Homo sapiens: one gene and its partner. The protein of the gene in region 2 purifies or fractionates together with the protein of the main gene of each other region. This does not show direct contact. Each region holds a gene or a part of one and is shown on either strand. Other genes may lie near its edges.

The links.
Region 1: the proteins of NPTX2 (region 2) and RGPD5 purify together in Homo sapiens (affinity purification with mass spectrometry, with the first as the bait; one large-scale study listed by BioGRID). This does not show direct contact.

Annotation. Positions count from the first base shown.
Region 1 is NC_000002.12:109,800,535-109,804,351, reverse strand, and holds part of RGPD5 (RANBP2-like and GRIP domain-containing protein 5/6), read right to left. Parts: intron 2,570-3,817; coding exon 2,502-2,569; intron 921-2,501; coding exon 809-920; intron 374-808; coding exon 221-373; intron 1-220.
Region 2 is NC_000007.14:98,623,768-98,627,584, reverse strand, and holds part of NPTX2 (neuronal pentraxin-2 precursor), read right to left. Parts: intron 2,664-3,817; coding exon 2,419-2,663; intron 421-2,418; coding exon 241-420; intron 1-240. UniProt on the Homo sapiens protein: Likely to play role in the modification of cellular properties that underlie long-term plasticity. Binds to agar matrix in a calcium-dependent manner.

The DNA of each region.
Region 1 (3,817 bases), on a different chromosome or scaffold from region 2:
ATTATTCCAGAAGGGTAAATGAGATGTCACTTATAAAGTATAACAATGCCTAATAAGACAGTAGATGCTCAGAAAGGTTTTAATACACTTTTTAAAAGAAAAATGTTAAAGGAAACACAAACACCTGAGCTTAAGGTTTGCTATTGAAAAGTAATTTAAACTCCAAATATTAGAAATGGTTATGTCTTAAGTTTTCTCCCTTTATGTTTTGTTTGTTTACCTTTAGTTTATAAATTGCAGGACTTCCTGGGAAAAGTTTTGCTGCTCTTTCGACCCAGTATTTTGCTCTTCCATCAGTAACATCATTTTTACAAAGCAATTCTGCAATCTTCAACACAAGATCTTTTTGTGTTGGGTTTAATTCCACTGAACGCTAATATCAGAAAAGAAATTAAAGATTAGTAAATAAATTGTATGTATGTATGTAGGAGTATATATACTTATACATAAAGGTTAAAAATTATCACTCCAACCCTTAAAAAATTCTACTTCTAGAGAAAACATGTTACTTTAAAGGTGTTAAAATAAAAGTGTCTTGGAATTTTCTAGAAATGAATCAAATAAAAATTATATTTGTGTCATTTGAATGCAAAAAACACAAAAGAACACCATTTCTGACCGTGTTAGACTTACAATTTATAGGTGTTAAACAATTCTAAATCTGTTCCAAGCTGTATCACATAATTGTACTATGATACCAATGCCTGTTTTATGATATTCATAAAATATATTTGACTTACTTATATAAATTTCTCTGGGCATCATGTGTTTGGCTACGCAAAGGCTATATTTGAATCTTATAACTTACCCTGTAACATTCAACGGCTTTCTCTGTGTTTTCTTCCAATTCATAAAGAAGACCCAGAAATCTGTGAGCTTTGGGATCCCTCTCTTGCACATTAATGTAAGTACATATGTATCTGTTTTTTAAAAGTAATACAAAAGTAAATTAAACTTAGAACTGTACTTTTAAATGCTAACCGAAGAATACATCTTAAACCAAAGCAACCACTAAACTCGTTTATATTGTTACTCAAAACTACCACTATTTATGCAGATAACTCAAAAGTATTCATAGAAAGAAATGGGTAATACTTAAAAACACGTACATAGAGTTGACCACATACTCATTTTACCATTAAATGTCACATTTACCAAATTTTTCTCCAGTGTTAACCACACATAAGAAATGAACATATAGATTGCTTTTTCTTCCTGATCACATTTTAATAAAGCACTAACAGTTTTGCCAATAAATTAGAAGTGATTATAATAAACATTTTTAAAGTTATCATAATGCAAAATACTAAACAGCAACAATTTCCCAAACAACAAAGGGAAATACATTTACCCTTTAAGCAAGAAAGTAATTTCTAACAGTACTATATCCAGCTAAAATCGAACAGAAGAAAAATTACTAATTACAGTACCAAATACAGGAAATTTCCATTTCTCAAATCAAGTAACAACTAAAATAAGTAAATATCCTCTAGGTTCCTTGACAGTATTACGATCAGAGAAATTAGGCCAGACCTAAACTAAGGGATTAAAGTCTCACAGTAAAAAGGTACAAGAGTTAACAGTCACAGTGCTGCTAGTTACATAATTTATGTACCACCATTTTCCTTTCTTACCAGCATTTCCATCTTCCTTTGGATGCCTTTAAAAGCCTGCCTCCCAGCTGGGAGCAGTAACACACACCTGTAGTCCCAACACTATGGGAGGCCGAGGCAGGCAGACTGCTGTGCTCAGAAGTTCAAGACTAGCCTGGGCAACATAGTGACACCTGTCTCTACCAAAAAATGCAAACCTTAGCCAGGTCCACGTGGTGGTGCGCATCTGTATCCCCAGCTACTTGGGGCGCTGAGGTGGGAAGATCGCTTGAGCCCAGAAGGCAGAGGTTACAGTGAGCAAAGATGGAGCCAGCTGCTGCACTCCAGCCGGAGCAAGAGAGACAGATACTGCCTAAAAAAAAAAAAAAAGCCTGCCTCCCTCTTAATTTCCTGCTTTAATCCACTCCCAGCCAGGAAATCAGAATCACCAAGCTTCTCATCCCTAGGATAGAGCCTTAGAGCATCACATATTGTGTCAGTTAAAGATCTTTTATACAAGCTATTCTCCTGCCTTACAATTACAGTTTAATTTTTTATTCATTGCTATTTTCCATCTGATTAAGGTATCAGATATCTAACCAAAAACAAATTAAGATATAGGCATGGTCCTCTTTTACTCCAACAGAAGACAATTTTTAGAAAAAGTGTTTTAAGCCAAACAATTTCTTGCCCTTGGTATAAAGCAGCAGCATGCAGAAAACACTAATTACAGTTTCAATCTCAATGGAATCTAGGCTGGTCCTTAGCATCAGTCTGAGTGATAAATCCCTTATTCCAGAATACACTTAGGAAGAACTACTAAGGACATATTTTTACCTATTTCAAAGAAGAAAATGAGAAAAGGCATTGATTTTAAAAAAAAGAATACATGTTACGGTTTGTACTTACTTTTTAGCAAGATCATATTCTTTAGCTTCATAATACAGCTTTGCAAAATAGAATCCTTTCATTGACTTCTAAAAAAAAATTAAAAGTTGTTTTACGTTTCATACAGAAATATTTTCCAACATTTTTTCAAAAGTAGTTAAAGCCTGACAAATGCATAATTCCATGTTTTATAATTTCCTACCACAAAACAAAAAATAGAGCTGGGTGCAGCAGCTCATGCCTGTAATCCCAGCACTTTGGGAGGCCGAAGTGGGCGGATCACCTGAGGTCAGGAGTTTGAGACCAGCCTGGCTAACATGGTGAAACCCCGTCTCTACAAAAATAGAAAAATTAGCCAGGCATGATGGCGGGTGCCTGTAATCCCAGCTACTCAGGAGGCTAAGGCACAAAAATCAGTTGAACCCAGGAGGTGGAGGTTGCAGTGAGCCAGAGGTTGCAGTCAGCTGAGATCGTGCCATTGCACTCCAGCCTGGGCGACAGAGACTCCATCTCCCAAACATCATCATCATCATCATCATCATCATCATCATCATCATCATAAATAAGCTGGGTGCAGTTGGTCACACCTTTAATTCTATTTAATTCTAGCACTTTCAGAGACCAAGGTGGGAGGCTAGCTTTGAGGCCAAGAGTTTGAAACCAGCCTGTGCAACACAACAAGATCCTGTCTCCAGGGGGAAAAAAATAGCCAGGCATAGTGGAGCATGCCTGTGTTCCTAGCTACTCAGGAGGCCAAGGAAGGAGAATCACTTGAGCCCAGGAGGTTGACACTGCCGTGAGTTATGACTGTAACACTGCACTCCAGCCTGGGTGACACAGGGAGATCCTCTCTCTAAATAATAAATACATAACATACAAAAAATAAATTCAAGAAAGCAAGACAAGCAGACAACAGAAGTTAAGAATTTTCATCAGCCTTGGAAATCTTGGAAACCCTGTGGTACCACTCTCTCACTTAACAAACAAAAGAAACCAGCTTTCTTTGGGGAGGAAAGGTATTCCAGAAATCTCTTCTCCTACCATGTGTAAGCCTCTATGGGAAAGAATAAGTAAGTACTTAGGATCTATTAAGGCACTGAGGATTCCCGGGTCCATGTACTGTTCTCTCTACAGATCAGATCAGTATTTTACAGTCAAGGAGTCAAAAAGGCAGAAATAAATATTGAATTCTTCAAGTAATAAACGAGGTCCACAGCCTGGATCCTTGGTTACATAAACTCCAAAGTCCAAAATGCTGATGCACACCAGGCTGGGTGCGGTGGCTCACATCTGTAATCCCAGCACTTTCGGAGACTGAGGCGGGTGGATCACTTGAA
Region 2 (3,817 bases):
CTCTAACCACAGGACAGCAAGGGCCAGGCTGCGGGGGTTCTCACTCCCCCGACCTGGCTGTCAGGACACTGTGGCCAGGTCTGAGGGGCCAACAGCTGGGGCCGGGAGCAGGAACAGCTGCAGGCCTGGCCTCGTGCTGCTCAGTTGGCCCCTCCTCGCACCATCCCTGAAAGGGCGCACGGCCACCCTGTGCCCATCCTGCACCCACCCTGTGCCCACCTGCACCTGCCCTGCACCCACCTGCTCTTGTCCAAGGATCAGCACGCCCCCGGGCTTGATGGGGTGCCAGGGGGCCAGGTTCTCCCCAGTGCCCAGCTTCTCTCCGTCCTGGAATGCCTCCCACATGCCATCCCGTGTCGTCCAGGTGACACAGATGTGGTGCCACTTGCCGTCACTGACAAACAGGGGCAGCTGCGCAACCTGTGAGCAGCAATGTGCAGGTAAGGACCTGCTGGGCCCACGCCCTCAGGGTCCCCCAGGGCAGGAAGCAGGAAGGACACCCCACAGTCCCCCTGGGCCACACTGCTCCTCCTGTCACCGGGGTCATGCGTGGAGAACATGCAAGGGGGCAGCCTTGGTGGAAACCCTGACCCCAGAGCAGCCCTCACATTAATGGGACACCCTTGGTGCCTGGCGTGGCTGAGGACCGAACAGATGTGAGGGTCAACACCCCCACGCTGGCCCTGAGCTCTCCATGCCAGAGAAACTCGGGAAGTCAGCGTTCCATGGGGCCAGTCTCCTTGGAAAACAGACGAGAGATCCTCATTCCTCATGCCAAGTCCCAAACCTCCATGATGGCACGCAGGGATCTGTGTGCTGCGGGTGTGCCCCGTCCTCCCTGCGCAGCGGCACGTGTGTGAGTATCTGTGTGAGCAGGGAACTCACGGACAGCGTGAGGAACTGGGGGGAGGACGCTGCCACTGGCCGGGTCCCTGGCGGTCCTGCAAGCACTTTCTATGCAGGCTCGCCTATGAACCACCGCGTTGTTGCTGCTGGTCTCCTAGCAACCCGAAGCCTCCCTCCCAGGAATTCGATGTTTACAAGCCGTCCAAACCCAGAGGACAACAAGGCTCTTAGCCCCACTGTGTCATAGGGTGTTATTTAGAACAATTATTTAACCCCTGGCTCAGGCAAGGGGGTCTATCTAGGAGGAGCCCAGCAGGCTGATGCCACAGCGTTTTTTAAACCTCGACAGACTCCACCCAGGGCAGTTCAGTGAGGACAAACAGAGTGAGGGGCTGAACTGCCCCCGCCTCCACCAGGGGTGGCCCGGGTGGCAGGGAGTTTGCGTAGCCACTCAAATGCCCAAATCCGGACAGGTTCTGAGAATGTTCTTTTTGTTATATGGAGTCTGCCATTAGAATGAAAGTTTGGAAGCAGGGCTGTGAGAGGTCCCCAGGAGGCCCAAAGTGGCCTTTTTTTTTTTTTTTTTTTTTTTGAGACAGGGTATCGCTCTGTCACCCAGGCTGGAGTACAGTGGTGCGATCATAGTTCATTGCAGCCTCGACATCCTGGGCTCAAAGCCATCTTCCTGCCTCAGCCTCCCGAGTAGCTGGAACTACAGGTGCACACCACCACACCTAGCTAACTTTCTAATTTTTTGTAGAGAAGGGGTCTTGCTATGTTGCCCAGGCTGCTCTTGAACTCCTGGGCTCAAGCAATCCTCCTGCCTCGGCCTCCCAACACACTGGGATTACAGGCATGAGCTACCATGCCCAGCCCTTGAGAAGACCACTCCTGAATGCCAAAACCAAGCAGTCTATTAAGAAGGGGCATTTGCTCTGGAAAAGGCAAGACCATGGGTATACATAACAGGTCAGCAATGGCCATGGGCTGGGGCTGGGATCAGAGTTAACTATGAAGGGGTATGAGGGGGTTTTGGGGGGTGATGGAACTGTTTTATATTTTTTCATCGTGGTGGTGGTTACACAACTGTGTGCATTTGTTAAAACTTCCTGAATTGTACATTAAAATGGGTACACTTTGCTGTATGTAAATTATATCTCTAGAAACCTGACCCCCACCAAAATATGCTTGTGGGGAGTCTCTTACACTGAGACACACACACCCCCTTAATCAGTGTGGCCCTGGGGAACAGCCCTCACTGACCGGCCTGAGGTCCTCTCTCAATCCAGGCTGCACACGGAGATCTGTTCCTTCTGCCCTTCCATGGCCTAGGTGCCTGGACCTTCTGCAGCTTGGTGGTTGGACTCACAGCTCGGCCCCTCCCCACCCCGCCCCTGTGAGCCGCCCGGCGTGTGCAAAGCTATCCCCACCTCGAGGAGGACAGCCCCGCAGTCCCATGTCTGGGACACTGCTGTGTGGCCCGAGGAGGGCGAGGACGGCTGGGGTGGGGGCTGTGGCTCCCTCCACCACATGATGGGTTCTGGGGAGGGTGGCGGTGCAGGCGGGCCTCACCTTGTCGTTGATGAGCAGCTCGATGGGGTTGTTGCCCCACTCGATCAGCACGATCTCGTTGGCCTGCCCTGGCACCGCATAGGAGAAGGGGGTGCCAATGCCTGGTGAGGCGCTGGACCGCAGCCACAGGCAGATGGTGAAGGCGTACAGCTCAGGCAGCGTCTTCTTGATCTTGCCGTATAGGTAGTTTGTGCGGAGTGGGAGGGACACCTTGAACGCATCTGGTGACTTAAAGGCGCTATTGCCTGGGGGTTGGGAGGAAGAGAGGCCAGGAGTGCGTTAGGCCACCCCACCACCCACCAGCACGGCCCAGAGCCACATCTTGCTAGACCCACAAGAAGGTCCCTCACACAGCCTTGATGGACCCTCCAGCAAGCGACCAAAGACCGCTCCACACCAGCCACTGATAAAAGGCTGAAGTCTGGCAGGATTCAGGACACAAGATGGAGTCCTTGTCCTTAGGGAGCTTACATTCAGGCAGGGAAGGTGACATGAAACCAGCAGCAGGTACGCGAGGGAAGTCCAGGCAGTGGCTCCTGCTAAGACGGGGAGTGGCCGGGGGAGGGAAGGCAGAGGATGCAGGGAAGGCCTGGAAAGACCTGCAGAAGAGAACCCCAGACACAGGTGACAGCAAGTACAGGGCCCCAAGGACGCCCAGAAAAGGAAAGAAAAGGAAGATTTTGTGGGCACTGCATGGGGCACGTTAGAGAATTTAGCTCCATCTTTTAGGACAGGAAAAGAGGCCTCTTGAAATCTAGAAGAAAAAAAGCTCTTGGATGGGTGCAGTGGCTCACACCTATAATACCAGCATTTTGGGAGGCCGAGGCAGGAGGATTGCTTGAGGCCAAGAGTTCGAGACCAGCCTGTGCAACATAGCAAGACCCTGTCTCTACAAAAAATTTAAAAAATTAGCCAAGTGCAGTGGCTCATGCCTGTAATCCCAGTGCTTTGGGAGGCTGAGGTGGGAAGACTGCTTGAGCCCAGGAGTTCAAGAACAGCCTGGGCAATACAGCAAGACTTCATCTCTACAAAAAATATAAAAATTAGCTGGGTAGGGTGGCACACACCTGTGGTTCCACCTACTCAGGAGGCTGAGGTGGATCGCTTGAGCCTAGGAGGTCCAGGCTGCAGTGAGCTATGATTGCATCACTGCACTCCCACCTGGGTGACAGAGGCTCTGTCTGGTTCCTTCTAGTTAATACTCTCTTTTCATAAGTCATATTAGGTGACTAGAAAGCTTGAGGAAGGAGCAGAAGAAAGGTAGATTTAATTTTCTTGTGTTAAGCCAGAAACTGCGTCCTTAGCCACATCTTATAACTTCAGATATTTCCTTGAAATCTTCGCAGGATCTAGGAACCCTGGAGACTTGGGCTTAGAAGAAGGAAGTCTTACAGGGACC